4 linked regions of the Homo sapiens genome follow. The protein of the gene in region 3 purifies or fractionates together with the protein of the main gene of each other region. This does not show direct contact. Each region holds a gene or a part of one and is shown on either strand. Other genes may lie near its edges.

The links. The genes of interacting proteins can lie anywhere in the genome.
Region 1: the proteins of ARHGAP12 (region 3) and CYFIP1 purify together in Homo sapiens (affinity purification with mass spectrometry; 2 studies listed by BioGRID and IntAct, with this or other methods). This does not show direct contact.
Region 2: the proteins of ARHGAP12 (region 3) and CYFIP2 purify together in Homo sapiens (affinity purification with mass spectrometry; one large-scale study listed by BioGRID and IntAct). This does not show direct contact.
Region 4: the proteins of ARHGAP12 (region 3) and ASAP1 purify together in Homo sapiens (co-immunoprecipitation; 3 studies listed by BioGRID and IntAct, with this or other methods). This does not show direct contact.

Annotation. Positions count from the first base shown.
Region 1 is NC_000015.10:22,914,369-22,917,868, reverse strand, and holds part of CYFIP1 (cytoplasmic FMR1-interacting protein 1), read left to right. Parts: coding exon 1-81; intron 82-555; exon of another isoform or gene 556-857; coding exon of another isoform or gene 858-1,238; coding exon 1,239-1,392; intron 1,393-2,986; coding exon 2,987-3,143; intron 3,144-3,500. UniProt on the Homo sapiens protein: Component of the CYFIP1-EIF4E-FMR1 complex which binds to the mRNA cap and mediates translational repression. In the CYFIP1-EIF4E-FMR1 complex this subunit is an adapter between EIF4E and FMR1.
Region 2 is NC_000005.10:157,269,123-157,272,622, forward strand, and holds part of CYFIP2 (cytoplasmic FMR1-interacting protein 2), read left to right. Parts: intron 1-201; exon of another isoform or gene 202-461; intron 462-3,500. UniProt on the Homo sapiens protein: Involved in T-cell adhesion and p53/TP53-dependent induction of apoptosis. Does not bind RNA. As component of the WAVE1 complex, required for BDNF-NTRK2 endocytic trafficking and signaling from early endosomes.
Region 3 is NC_000010.11:31,918,832-31,922,331, reverse strand, and holds part of ARHGAP12 (rho GTPase-activating protein 12), read left to right. Parts: intron 1-3,500. UniProt on the Homo sapiens protein: GTPase activator for the Rho-type GTPases by converting them to an inactive GDP-bound state.
Region 4 is NC_000008.11:130,055,675-130,059,174, reverse strand, and holds part of ASAP1 (arf-GAP with SH3 domain, ANK repeat and PH domain-containing protein 1), read left to right. Parts: intron 1-1,098; coding exon 1,099-1,221; intron 1,222-3,500. UniProt on the Homo sapiens protein: Possesses phosphatidylinositol 4,5-bisphosphate-dependent GTPase-activating protein activity for ARF1 (ADP ribosylation factor 1) and ARF5 and a lesser activity towards ARF6.

The sequences.
Region 1 (3,500 bases), on a different chromosome or scaffold from region 3:
GCCTTGCGGGGCGAGAAGGACCCCAAGAGCGGCTTCGACATAAAAGTACCACGCCGCGCCGTGGGACCCTCCAGCACTCAGGTTCTCGTCCCTTGAGCCCCGCCTGCACCCTCTCCCTGGGGGGACCCACCCTGAGCTGTGAGCGGGTGGGGCTGGTGAGGCCCGGGTTAAATGAGGTCCTCGCTGCCTGCTCAGGCAGAGAAAGTGGCGCCTGTGGTTTCTGCTGCTCCTCTGTTTCCCACCCAAGTGAGTTGGGAGCGTGAGGAGACGTGCCTTGATTGTCAGATGTGTCATGTGCACTAAAAAGGAGTCTGACTCCATTTCAACTCCCATCCCAAAAATGTGGGCACAAGTCCACGTGTCTGTATTCATTCTGTGTTTCTTGATGGGTGTTTGAATGTCTGTATAATTTTTACGTTGGGTCTGCAAATGACTGTAGATGGGGCGTGGGAAACTGTGAGGTGCTGCTTGCGTGTGTCATGGTCCTAAGCTGCCCACTGTCCTCTCTCCTGGTGTGTTCAGGCCTCCCCGAGGTGCTTCTCACGACTTTCACACCCGGTTTAATCCACACCGCTGCGTCTGTCCTCCGTCCTGGGGCTGGTCTTCTCCCTCATCTCTGCCGGAGGCTTTTAATCTCTTCTGCCACTCTTCTGGAAAGTCACCAGCAATGCACGCTGCTGGCTCTGCAGGAGGGTCAGGGGGACGGCCCTCGGCCTGTGCGTGGTGCCAGCCACCCTCCCTGCCTCCCTCTGCGTGCGTCCCGTGTCCCTGCCTGGGGTGTGTGTGTCGAGTGACTAACGTCTCTCTCCTGCCTCTCCCTCCTGTCTGTCCGTGTCTAGCTCTACCTGGTGCGCACCATGGCCGAGTCCTTGGGCTCTGCCGAGCTGCTCAGGCAGCTCAAGTCTCTGGGCATGGAGAGGCTCTTGCATGCGGTTAACACGTTTCTGAGGCAGTCGTGCACCTACCTACCCCTTTTAACCTTTGGTGGTAAGACATCATTTGTTTCTCTTGACGTTTATGGCACGGAGGCGAACTGCTCCGCTACAAGTTGTTCTTTCCCCAAAGCAGCAGCAACGTGGCCGCGTAGACAGGCACCCGGACCCCTCGGGGAGCTGGTGCGGGGCCCTCCCGACCAGGGCGTAGCGGAGCAGTCCTTCTCTCATGGGCTTTTTGAGTTTGGCATAACTAATGTACCATGTATATTTTCTCCCCCACAAATGTTTCCTTGGATAATCCAGCTTTACATGGTGAGAACCATGCTAGAGTCCCTCATTGCAGACAAAAGTGGTTCCAAGAAAACCTTGAGAAGTAGCCTTGAGGGGCCCACCATATTGGACATAGAAAAATTTCATCGAGAGTCATTCTTCTACACTCACTTGATAAATTTCAGTGGTAAGAGATACTGCTGAGCAGCATCCGGCCTGGCATGTCCTAACACCACTAACACCGTCTAGAATGCTTCCGCCCGCCTGACCACCCCCTACCCCGTCCCTTGGTGCACCCAGACGGTGACTCGTCCTGCCCTCTGTGGCGGTGGCTGTACGTCCCTGGCCTGAGCTCGCTCCACAGGGCGTGGTCCCTACAAGGGTATAAACTGAGGAGCCCGGGCTGGCCCTGAGACATGAACAGAAAATCTTTTCAACCCATGCGGGGTTGGAAACAGGCGAATGTAATCTGGTGCCTGAGTTGAGACACAGGCATTGATAAATACTAGAAATGGCCCTTGCAGACCATGACGTGGGGGGAAGGTGGCGGGTGCCCTGTGCCAGGCAAGCCCATCCTGGGTGACACCCGGCCACCTTGACCGGCCACCGGTGGGTGCGCTCTCTGCCCTCCGTGTGTCTGTCCCGTGTTCTCATCAAGTCCTCCGTTGTCCACCTCTTGCTCAGAACAGGATCCCTGCTGTCTTGGCTGGGGTGCTGCGAGGTATTGGAGGAAATAGTACCACTTTTGCTGTTAACTCCATGAAAGGATGGAGTTCGAGTGTGGGCTCTTTTAATCTGTCTCATTTTTGCGTTAGACAGACCTCCCTGAGTGTGCCTCTAATGCTGCAGCCTGGACATTGGTTTTTATCCTAAGTGAAAGTGAAGAAGTCCTGTTTTTTTGTTTTGTTTTTTGTTGAGACGAAGTCTTGCTCTGTCACCCAGGCTAGAGTACAGTGGGGCGATCTCAGCTCACTGCAAGCTCCGCCTCCCAGGTTCAAGAGATTCTCCTCCCTCAGCCTCCCAAGTAGCTGGGATTATAGGTGCTCACCACTGCGCCTGGCTAATTTTTGTATTTTTAGTAGAGATGGGGTTTTACCATGTTGGCCAGGCTGGTCTCAAACTCCTGACCTTGTGATCCACCCGCCTCGGCCTCCCAAAGTGCTAGGATTACAGGCGTGAGCCACTGTGCCCAGCCAGAAGTCCTGTTTTTATGTCTCCTTTTGAGAAGAACATTTTTAGGTAAGACACAGTGGCTCATACCTGTTAATCCTAACACTTTGGGAAGCCAAGGCAGGAGAATCACTTGAATTCGGGAGTTTGAGACCAGCCTGGGCAACATGGCGAGACCCCCATCTCTATAAAAAATACAAAATCAGTTGGTGGCACGTGCCTGTGTTCTCAGCTACTTGGGAGGCTGAGGCAGGAGGATCGCTTGAGCCCAGGAGTTGAAGGCTGCAGTAAGCTATGATCGCGCCACTCACCTCCAGCCTGGGTGACAGAGTGAGATAGACTCTGTCTCAAAAAAAAAAAAAAGACACTTTCCCCCTGGATCCCACTGAAGGGCTCACAGGGTTGATGAGGTGGCTTTACCTGCAGCTATGCCCAGCTGGTCCTGTCCCTAGTGCAAGGCCCCGGTGACCCCTCCCCACTCATGTCCATGCTGCATGGCTTGGGGCTGAGCGAGGAGGAGCAGGCACCCAGCACACAGCCCTTGTGTCATCTCTGCTAAAGGTTTTTTTTTGCTTGCGGGAGATAACATGGAGTTGTTTGAACCCTCCCAGAAACGCTGCAGCAGTGCTGTGACCTTTCGCAGCTGTGGTTCCGAGAGTTCTTCCTGGAGCTGACCATGGGCAGGAGGATCCAGTTCCCCATTGAGATGTCGATGCCCTGGATCCTGACGGACCACATCCTGGAGACCAAGGAGGCATCGATGATGGAGTGCGTGTCCTGCGGGCCTGTCTCCAGCCTTTGTGTGTGGTGACCGGGGGTCCTCAGAGGAGGTGGCGGAGAGGCCGGGACTGTTTTTAGTATTGTATTTGAAATCAAGTTTCTGGGCCTGGGCAAAATAGCAAGACCCCAGTCTCTACAAAAATGAGAAAACTTAGCCTGGTGTGGTGGCTGATGCGGGAGGATTGCTTTACCACAGAAATTTGTGGCTGCATTGAGCTATGGATTGCACCACTGCATTCCAGCCTGGCCACGTAGCAAGACCCTGTCTCCAAATAAAAAAAAAAAAAAGAGAAATCATGTTTCCTGGGGTAAAGCTTTAGAGATTAATACAAGTAACTAACCAGT
Region 2 (3,500 bases), on a different chromosome or scaffold from region 3:
TTTTTTGAGGGAAGTTGGTCTCTGTGACCAGTAAACCCAGCCCCAAGTTTACCGGCCGAAGGAAGGGAAAGTTAAGAGTGATAGGGCATGAAGTGAAAGGCTTCAGGTGGGAAGTGCTCTTAAGTAGCACAAGAGAGGTGGGTGGAACCTGAGTAGGTAGGGAGAAGTGGGAGGGAACAAGCCAAGCAGAAGCCCAGGGCCATTCTCACATTTCAACACGTAGAGTTAAGGAAGGGCCTCTTCCTCTGTGAGAATTCAGCATTTTGCAACCATCCAAAAATGTTGAGGGCATGCTTTGCTTCCAGGGCAGACAGAGCAGCACAGTGAGCATGGGACACAGGATCCCTGACTTGCTGTGTGCCCTTAAACCAGCCACTACCTCTCTGACGTTCAAAATTGAGCAATGGAAGGCAGCCTGCCCAACTGTTACCTGCCTGTCATCATGAAAGCCTGCGGATGAGGTAATGTCTGTAAATCCCAGTCTGAGAAAAAAAAGCCGTGGAAATAGAGAAGGAGCCTCCTGAATGTGTGACTCTTTTGGGTAAATGCCCTCCATTCCTTAAGAAACAATTTATTAATTATATATTGTGTGTCACTTTAAGAAGATGGATCTGTGGCCTCTCTGTACTGTTGAGCCAATGGGAAGCTTAAAGGCACTTTGTGATTCACAGATTCTGTCAAGGCCCCTGGATGGCCTTGTCTGTACAAAGACACTTCAGAATTCAGTCAGTGGGTATGGGACGCCTCCCAGGATGCAAAGAGCTTAGATATTGGCTTTCTAGCCATGGGCATTATGCTAAGGGCTGTGTGTGATGTACCTCAAAAAATAGCCATTTAAGCCATACTTGGGCCCTGGCAACAGAGGGTGCAAATTCTTGAAAGAAATTGTTTTGAGAAGGCAGAGCTTGAGTTCAGGCAGAATTTCTTGCAGGGATCATTCTGGTTGCGTGGCATTTTGATAGACTTTGGGCAACTCAGATACAGGCAGTGAGAGAGGGAAGTAAATAGGACCTTCTTGCGAGATGCCTGAGAAAGACCCAGTGATGACTTCATCAGTAGACCTTTTGATTCTGTTTGCGTCATTATTTGGTCATTGTAGAGCAATGGTTCTTAGGCTTTAATCTCTAGGTAAAACAGAGGTGTGTTTAGTCTGTCCATGTTCTCTGTTTTCTAAGTAAGGCAGGAGGTGAGGTCCTCTGCAGGAAATAAAGGTGATGGACTGGTTAGGAAACTTCAGGAGACTTCAGGGTTTGGAACAGTTGCCTATGTGGGTGGAATAAGAAATAAACTGGGGAAGAATGAGAGAATTGTCTAACTTCACTGAAGGCCTGGCTGAGATCAAAGAGAATTTGCAGGGCTGACCCTCAGAGAAGACATGCAGTAACTCTTAAGGAATATCCGAGAACTATTTTTGATTTGTGCTTTTAAAATATGATGCTTTAAGATTTGTTTTGGCAAGATATGAATGGCAAGATAAGAATTCAGAACTAGAGGTCAGCCCCCTATCTCCAAGTCTGTTATACTTCCATATGGGAAAGAGAAATGAGGACCTGCTTCTTAGGGTTTGAAGTGGAAACTATACGACAGAAGGATTTTCTAAAGAACTCTCCTCAGATTCTTATATTGACAAGGCAGCCTTGGATATGGGACCTTAGAGAAGCATGATATTTTAACTTTCTTGTTAATTTTTTTAAACCAGAAGTTAAGAATTTTGGTCATTGGCTCATGCAGTCAACAAATCATTCATGAAGTATTAATTAAGCAAGTAATTCCTGGTGTGTGCCTATCTCTGTGCTGGTTGCTATGGGTCAAACTCAGATAAGATGACTATCCTTGGCATTCTTAGCAATCCAAAGAATTAGTGAAATATAAAGCAGTTTGTCGTGCAGTTAAAAACTGTGGACTCTAGACTGTGAGTGCTAAGGGAGTGAGAGAAATAAAGGTCATTAAGGGGCTTGGCTGGTCAGACCTTTGTGGAAAAGGCATGTCTTCGTGTGGGCCATGATAGATCGGTAAGATTTGAGAAGGGAAGAAGACAGTCCATAAGGGAGTGGAGACAGTTTGAGCAAAGGCACAAAGGAAGAGTATCCTTGGACAGGTTTATTATGCCCTGTATACCTTGGCCACAGAGAATGGTCTGCATGATCCTTAACACATGTCTTTAAGGAAGCCCTTTGGATGGAATGTCTCAACTGTAGTCATGGTCATTTGCTTTAGTGTTGGGAGGGTCCTGAGAGAGGCCCAAATCCAGTGATTCTTAACTGGTTGCTGTTGTGGTTTTTTTAGTACACAAAATGGACAATGTTGACATGCTGAACACATCAGCCCCCACAGCCAACCCCCCAACTCTGCTCCATTCCTGCCACTCAAGGGAAGAGATGAACATGCAAGCAATAATATCACACAGAGATCTTGAACCCTCGCCTCACATACAATAAAATGTACCTTGTTTGCAAACCTCAGTGCTTAAGCTATTATTAGCACAAGTTACCCGCAATAACCTTCACAAGGCAGGTTTGGACATCATGGTTGAGAGAGAACCAAGGCTAACCTCCACATTTTACAGACAGAGAAATTTGCCCTTTTAGAGTGAGTGAAAATGTGATTTGGGGGCCTTTGTCTTCATACTGAGCCATGTTCGAGTTGTGGTTTCACATCGATGGAGCTGAGTTCCACGTGCTCCGATCTGGTGGCCAGACCTGAAGCCCTCCTCTTTGTTTCCGTAGCAGATGCATGGCTTCCCTTGTGAGTTTTAGCAGGTGCATCTGAGAGGCAGCTCCTCTCCCCACATACGCGTCATGTTGGTGTTCCTCATATGACAGCCCCAGGGCCCCAGCAGGAGCAAATCAGCAAGCCACCTTGGTGGCATGACTTCCCCTCCTGAGAGCATGAGGCCGTTCCCCTGAGCTGCTGGTAGCCTGGTTTGGTGTCACCACAAAGGCCACCTCAACCTTAACAACACAGGAAGCAGCTGGGCAAAATGGCAAACGAAGGGGAAAGTCCTTTAGCCCCCACCAAGATCTTTTTCTCTGTCTACTCAGTCTACTCATAAACAACGAGGAGGATAGGCCTTCTCCAGTGGCCCAAGTCGAGGCTGACTTGATTTCTCGGCTCTGACTGCAGGTCCCCTGTGTGGAGAGAAGCTGTAGGTGATAGGGCCTCTGGTCCCGGAGGACAGGAGCAGGGGACTGAAACAACAAAGACCACCTTGCCAGTCAGTGCTGGGTACCGGCCAGGTGTCTGAACTGCTAACAAGGAGACTTTGGGTGGTTGTCTTCTAAAGCAAATTATTAAATTTTGATCAAAACGATATATACAAATGTTTTAAAAAATCAAATAGTATTGAAAGCCTTATAATGAAAAACAACCATCCAGCACCCACCCTCCCCTAGAGGCTGCCACTTTTAACTCACTGTTTCTTCTAGTAGCTGCCTCCAGATCTCTAAATGATATGCTTACACTGCTGTTTCTCGATTTATCTATTCTGCACGTTGTCTATT
Region 3 (3,500 bases):
GATGTCTTCAGGATCTGTAGTTATGTCTCTGGTTACCTTTTTGATAATTTGTTTCTTTTCTCTTTTGTTCCCATTAGTTTGGCTAGAGGATTGTCAGTTTTACTGATCTGTGCTTTTTTTTTTTTTTTTTTTTTTTTTTTTTTTTTTTTTTGAGGCAGGGTCTTGCTCTGTCTCCCAGGCTGGAGTGCAATGGCATGATCTCAGCTCGCTGCAGCCTTTGCCTCCTGGACACAAGCCTCAGCCTCCTGAGTAGCTGGGACCACAGGCACATGCCAACCACACCCGGCTAATTTTTTGTATTTTTGGTAGATATGGGGTTTCACCACGTTGCCCAGGGTGGCATTGAACTTCTAAGCTCAGATGATCTGCCTGCCTTGGCTTCCCAAAGTGCTGGGATTATAGGTGTGAGCCATTGCACCTGGACAGTTTTACTGCTCTTAAAGAACCAGGCTCTGGTTTCATTGATTTTTCTCTAACATTTTTCTGTTTTCTTTTTATTGCTTTCTGCTCTCATCTTTTTCATATCTTTTCTTCTACAAACTTTTTTTTTTTTTTTTTTTTTTTTTTTGAGATGGAGCCTTGCTCTGTCACCCAGGCTGGAATGCAGTGGCACAATCTCGGCTCACTGCAACCTCTGTCCCCAGGGTTCAAGCCATTCTCCTGCCTCAGCCTCCCCAGTAGCTGGGATTACAGGCATGCACCACCATGCCCAGCTCATTTTTGTATTTTTGGTAGAGACGGGGTTTCACCATGTTGGTCAGGCTGGTATCGAACTCCTGACCTCATTATCCGCCCGACTCTGCCTCCCAAAGTGCTGGGATTACAGGCATGAGCTACCGCGCCCGACCTCTACAAACTTTGGATTTAATTTGCTCCTCTTTACCTTCTTAGAGTGGAAGCTTATGTCATTGATGTGAGACTTTGTGTTTTTTCTGGCATTTAGTGCTGTAAGTTTTGTCTGAGCACTACTTCAGCTGTATCCCACAAATTTTGAAATTACATGTTTTCATTTTCATTCAGTACACATTTCCTGTTTGGTTTCTTTTTTCTTTTTTTGAGACGTTGTTTCACTCTCACCAAGGCTGAAGTGCAGTGTCACAAACTGCAGCCTTGACTTCCTGGGCTCCTGTAATCCTCTTACCTCAGCCTCCCTTAGTAGCTGGGACTACAGGTGCATATCACCATGCCCGGCTAGTTTTTTTAGTTTTTGTAGAGACGGGGTCTCACCAGGAGTTCAAAACTCACCAGGCTGGTCTTGAACTCTTGGCCTCAAGTGATCCTCCCACCTCCGACTCCCAAAGAGCTGGGATTACACGCGTGAGCCACCTTGTCCAGCCTGATTTTGTCTTTTGACTCCTGACTCATTTAGAAGTGTGTTGCTTAGATTCCAAAAACAATTTTGGGGTTTTTAAGATACTTTTTGAGAGTTTCTAATTTAATTTTATTGTGATTGGAGAACATACTTTGCATAATTTCAGTTCTTTTCAGTTTATTGAGGCTTGTTCCATGGCCGAGAATGTGGTATACAGGAACTTAGGTTTGTAAGAAACTACTAAACTGGCTGTGCTATTTAGCACTCTCACTAACACTATGTAAATACTCTAGTTTCTGGAATACTTGCCAGCACTGTTATTGTCTTTTTTAAAACAAAAACAAAAACAAAAACTTTATTGTAGTTGATGTGTAGTGATACCTAATTTGGGCTTTAGTTTACATTATTGATTTTTATTCTTGTTAAAATCAATTTGAATAAAACTTACAAATCGTGGATTTTTTTTTTCCAGTAGATGACAAAATGTGCTGAGGGATTGGTAATAGTTCATCATTTGTATGCTGCGTAAGTGCTACTTTTCAGTTTTCTTTTTTTTTTTTTTTTTTTTTTGAGACGGAGTCTCACTCTGTCGCCTAGGCTGGAGTGCAGTGGTGCAGTCTTGGCTCACTGCAACCTCTGCCTCCTGGGTTCAAGCGATTCTCCTGCCTCAGCCTCCCTAGTAGCTGGGATTACAGGCACCCACCACCACGCCTGGCTAATTTCTGTATTTTTAGTAGAGTGAGGTTTCACCATGTTGGTCAGGCTGGTCTGGAACTGCCGACCTTGTGATCCGCCCACCTCTGCCTCCCAGAGTGCTGGGATTACAGGTGTGAGCCACTGCGCCCGGCTAATTTTCAGTTTTCTAAGAGTTTGAATGTTTGTTTGCTTTTTAGTATTTACTTTTTTTTTTTTTTGAGACAGAGTCTTGCTCTGTCACCCAGGCTGGAGTGCAGTTGCGCGATCTCGGCTCACTGCAACCTCCGCCTCCCAGGTTCAAGCGATTCTCCTGCCTTGAGTAGCTGGGATTACAGGCATGCCACCATGGCCAGCTAATTTTTGTATTTTTAGTAGAGATGGGGTTTCACCATGTTGGTCAGGCTGTTCTTGAACTCCTACCTCGTGATCCACCCACCTCATCCTCCCAAAGTGCTGGGATGACTGGCGTGAGCCACCGTGCCTGGCCAATATTTACTTGTTTTTTGTTTTTTTTGGTTTTGTTTTTTTTTTTGAAATGGAGTCTTGCTGTGTTGCCCAGGCTGGAGGTGCAGTGGTGCGATCTCGGCTCACTGGAAGCTCCACCTCCCTGGTTCACACCATTCTCCTGCCTCAGCCTCCTGAGTAGCTGGGACTACAGGTACCCACCACCATGCCCAGCTAATTTTTTTGCATTTTTAGTAGAGACGGTTTCACCGTGGGAGCCAGGATGGTCTTGATCTCCTGACCTTGTGATCCGCCCACCTCAGCCTCCCAAAGTGCTGGGATTACAGGCGTGAGCCACCGCGCCTGGCCCTATATCTACTTTTAAAGAGGATTTGTAAGAGCTTCATGAGGATTTTAGTTACTTGTGGCTTTTGAGTAGATGGGTATAAGGTGATTTAAATTGTATACTACAGTGTCTTTAGTGAAATATATATAACATGAAATTTACTGTTTTAACCATTTTTGAGTGCACAGTTCTGTGGCATCAAATAAATTAACTTTGTTGTCCAGCCATCACCACCCTTCATCTCCAGAACTTTTTCATCTTTCTAAACTGAAACTCCATACCCATTAAGCAGTAACTTCCTGTTGCTGTCTTTCTCCATCCCTTGGTAACCACCATTCTGCTTTCTGTCTTTATGAATTTGACTACTCTAGGTACCTTATATACATGAAATCATATAATGTTTGCCCTTTGTGACTGGCGATTTCCCTAAGCATAAATAGTCTTCAGAGTTCATTCACATTGTACTGTCAGAATTTCCTTCCTTTTTAAGGCTGAATAATATTTTATGTATGTATCACATTTTGTTTATTCGTCCATTGATGGATATTTAGTTTGCTTCCACTTTTTGACTATTGTGATTAATGCTGCTGTGAACATGGATATACAAATATCTGTTTGACTTTCTGCTTTCAATTCTTGTGGGTGTATACCCAGAAGTGGAATTGCTGGATAATGTGGTAATTGTATTTTCAGTTTCCTTGA
Region 4 (3,500 bases), on a different chromosome or scaffold from region 3:
AAAAAATTTAAATGTTGCAGTAAAAGTGTGTCATATCAATACTTAAATTAAGAAAAATAAAACCCATCTTCCTGTAGGTTGGAGGCTGCCGTGTCTGATGGTGGATACTTCTGCTATTCAAAAGGGAACTCTCCCATGACTCCCAAGCACCACTGATGCAAAATTTTCATTTCATGCTACACACTATATAGTTTTATTATGTCATTTAATCTCTGTGTTATAAATTAACACACTACAGGCCTCTCAGTTGCTCACGCAGTCACTGCCACAGTTCTGCCAGGCTTCTCCAACCCACCCGCACGGCCCAGAAGGGAGCTCGGAAAGCAGCTGGAACTATCAGGGTGATTAAAGGAGAAACCAGGGGACAGAGAGGAAGAGGCACTCCACCCAAAACATTTAAAGAGACAGCTTGCTTTTTTTAAAATTGCCAATTAGCCAGGTGCAAAACAAAAACCCATCATTTAGAAGGTGATACCTCTATTTTCACTTTTCTATTTGCAAAGAACTGGAAGTTCAACAAATAAATGCTCAAATCAAAACTAATCAAAAATTAAAACTGTTTTAGGAACTGCATAGACTTCTCCGAGCCCCAGGCCGATCCTGCTGTGTTTAACCAGCATGTACTGACTTGCTGTTTTGCATGAGGGGACTGACAAATTTGTTTATGCTGCACATTCATTATGCAGAAGCTGCAGATTTTGCTTTACATCATGTTTCCTAAAAACATTTTTAGACTCTGCTGTCATTCTGCAAGCTGATGTGGGTTGGGGGTGCGTACAGAGTGCTTGATGGTTTTTGGTGAAGCTCAATTTTGATCCCTACCCATAGTGTTTGCTTTCTGGTGAAAATAACTTGATGATGCCCAATCACCAATGCAGGGCCACCCTGATGATGGGGGGAGAGGAAGGGCCTGTAGTTAAGAGTACACAGTATGCTGGGTGCCTGACAGACACTCTTCTTCCCGCCCTTCAAGGGTGAGGAAATCAAGGCTCAGCGAGGTTAAGTTACTGGCCAAGGTCAACCATTTTACAAAGAACCGCTGCTCTTTTTTTCCATTCAGTCCATTCTTTCAATTAAAACCCAGTTTCTTTCTTTAAGGGGAAAAATAAAGTGAGGCGAGTGAAGACCATTTATGACTGCCAGGCAGACAACGATGACGAGCTCACATTCATCGAGGGAGAAGTGATTATCGTCACAGGGGAAGAGGACCAGGAGTGGTGGGTACGTACGAATATCCATCCACTTCATCCGTACATTCATACAGCATGCCTGGGCAGGCACCACATTGGAGCCTACAGACAGTGCAGTAAAAGAGGGCTCTTGAGCACAAGGACCCTGTCAGCTGCATCACTCACCCAACAGCCATTGCATTTGGTGTCTTTTCTATGTCACACACTATTACATGCTAGAAAAACAGCCGTGGAGCTGGCCGGGCACAGTGGCTCACGCCTGTAATCCCAGCACTTTGGGAGGCTGAGGCGGATGGATCTCGAGGTCGGGAGTTCGAGACCAGCCTGGCCAGCATGGTGAAACCCCGTGTCTACTAAAAATACAAAAAATTAACTGGGCATGGTGGCACGCACCTGTAGTCCCAGCTACTCGGGAGGCCAAGGCAGGAGAATCGCTTGAACCCGGGAGGCACAGGTTGCAGTGAGATGAGATCACACCACTACACTCCAGCCTGGGCAACAGAGCGAGACTCCATCTGAAAAAAAAGAAAAACAGCCATGGGGCTTTGAAGACAGGTCAAGAGAATTAACATTTGTATGTACTTTACCCATGGTATCATGTAACCTTGTGAGTTGTAGGCATTTTCTGATTTTTCATATAAATACTAAAGCGGAAGAAAGTTGAGCATGTTGCCTGTGGTCCCTCAGCCAGTAAGCAGGCTAAGTCAAGATTCCAGATCGGCCCTGACCCCAGAGCCTATGTGCTTTGCTCACCATTCCACACTGTCCCCAGGCTGGGAATCAGAATGCCCAAGTTCCTGCTCAGGCTGAGCAGTTGACAAGTCCTCAGACTCAATTCTTAATCCAGTCTGCAGTTCTTTCTTTGTCAAATAGGCCAAGACACCTTCTCCACGTAATTTTAGGAAAAGATTAAATGAAAATATCTATGAAAACTCCTTTTACATTAAAACCTGCAGCTCAGGCATCAGGAGGGAAAGACATCAGCATCCTCATAGGCCCTGCTAGGTACCCAGGCTGTGAGTGACCTGCGAGGGCAGTCCACACATCTATTGGTTTTCACGTTGCCAGGGAGTAAGTCTCCCGATGGGAACTGCCAGGCCAAGGTACAGTGAATAAGCCACCTCTTCTGCTCTCCTTGTTGATCATTTCCTGACATCAGGGTGAAAATTCCCCTTCCTTGGCAGCCTGAGCCCCGTCCTGCCAAGAGGGACTCAGTTCTGTCTGCCAGGAAGGGACCTGAGGCTCGCAGTTGAGCCAGCAGTACCTAAGAATACCCAGAAATACATATGTATATACATGTGTGCACACACACATAGGCATGGGCACACATTCACCTTTGACTTTTCTTCCTTCAGGCCTAGACAGTGACCTCAGATTCTTAATCACAGCTGTAGGGATTTTGTTTGGACTCAACTGGGGCAATTTTGCCCTCCAGGGACATTTACAATATCTGGAAATATTGATTGTCAGGACCTAGGAAGGGGGTTGCTACCAACAACTAGTAGATGGAAGTTTAGTGGCCAGGGATGCCACTAAACATCCTCCAGTACTCAGGGAGCCCCCACAAGCAAGGATGCCAGTAGCACCATGGTTGAGAAACTGGACTGAAGGGATCAGCCTGGGGAGGCCCAGGGGTACCTCCAGCCTCTGTCAGCAGAGTGGGGCCAGCCCCTGGCATGAAGCCTGTCAGAGAGTCCACTTCATCTCATGACGAGGAGGTGGGCTCTGAAGCCCCCCCACGTGAATCAGTTACTAGCTCTATGGGCCTTGGATAAAGCATGTCCCTTCTGTAAGCCTCACTTTCCTCTGAAAAATAGGACATGATTAATCGTTTCTCACAAGGATGTTGAGGAACTCACTTTGTAATCTGTTAATATTATTATAATCAAGCAGTGATCATGTTCTTTGCTAAGCAACTGATGACTACAGCAGAGATACCTGCGGGGAATGGGAAGCTGTCATTGGTGTCCCTAGCATCATTCCTAGGGGACATTGTGTGTGCCACCATTACGTGCCTCGCCAGATGTAAAGATGGTGCCACACACACATGCTAACTGTGATGTGAAATTCACAAAGACCTCACACATGCATGATGCCAACTAAGACCACACGCGGTGGGTGGGCAAGCCTTCAGGAGAGCTGGGCAGGCCTGGTTGACTCTGTTCCACTCTTAAAACCACCTTCCTCTCTATCGATTTGGCATTGGAAGCCAATATGCACGATTTTGTTTTTTCTATTGAAGGCCCATTACATGATTCTCTTTAGTGCAATCAATACTAATCTAATTGAGGTAATTAGAAAATTTTTACA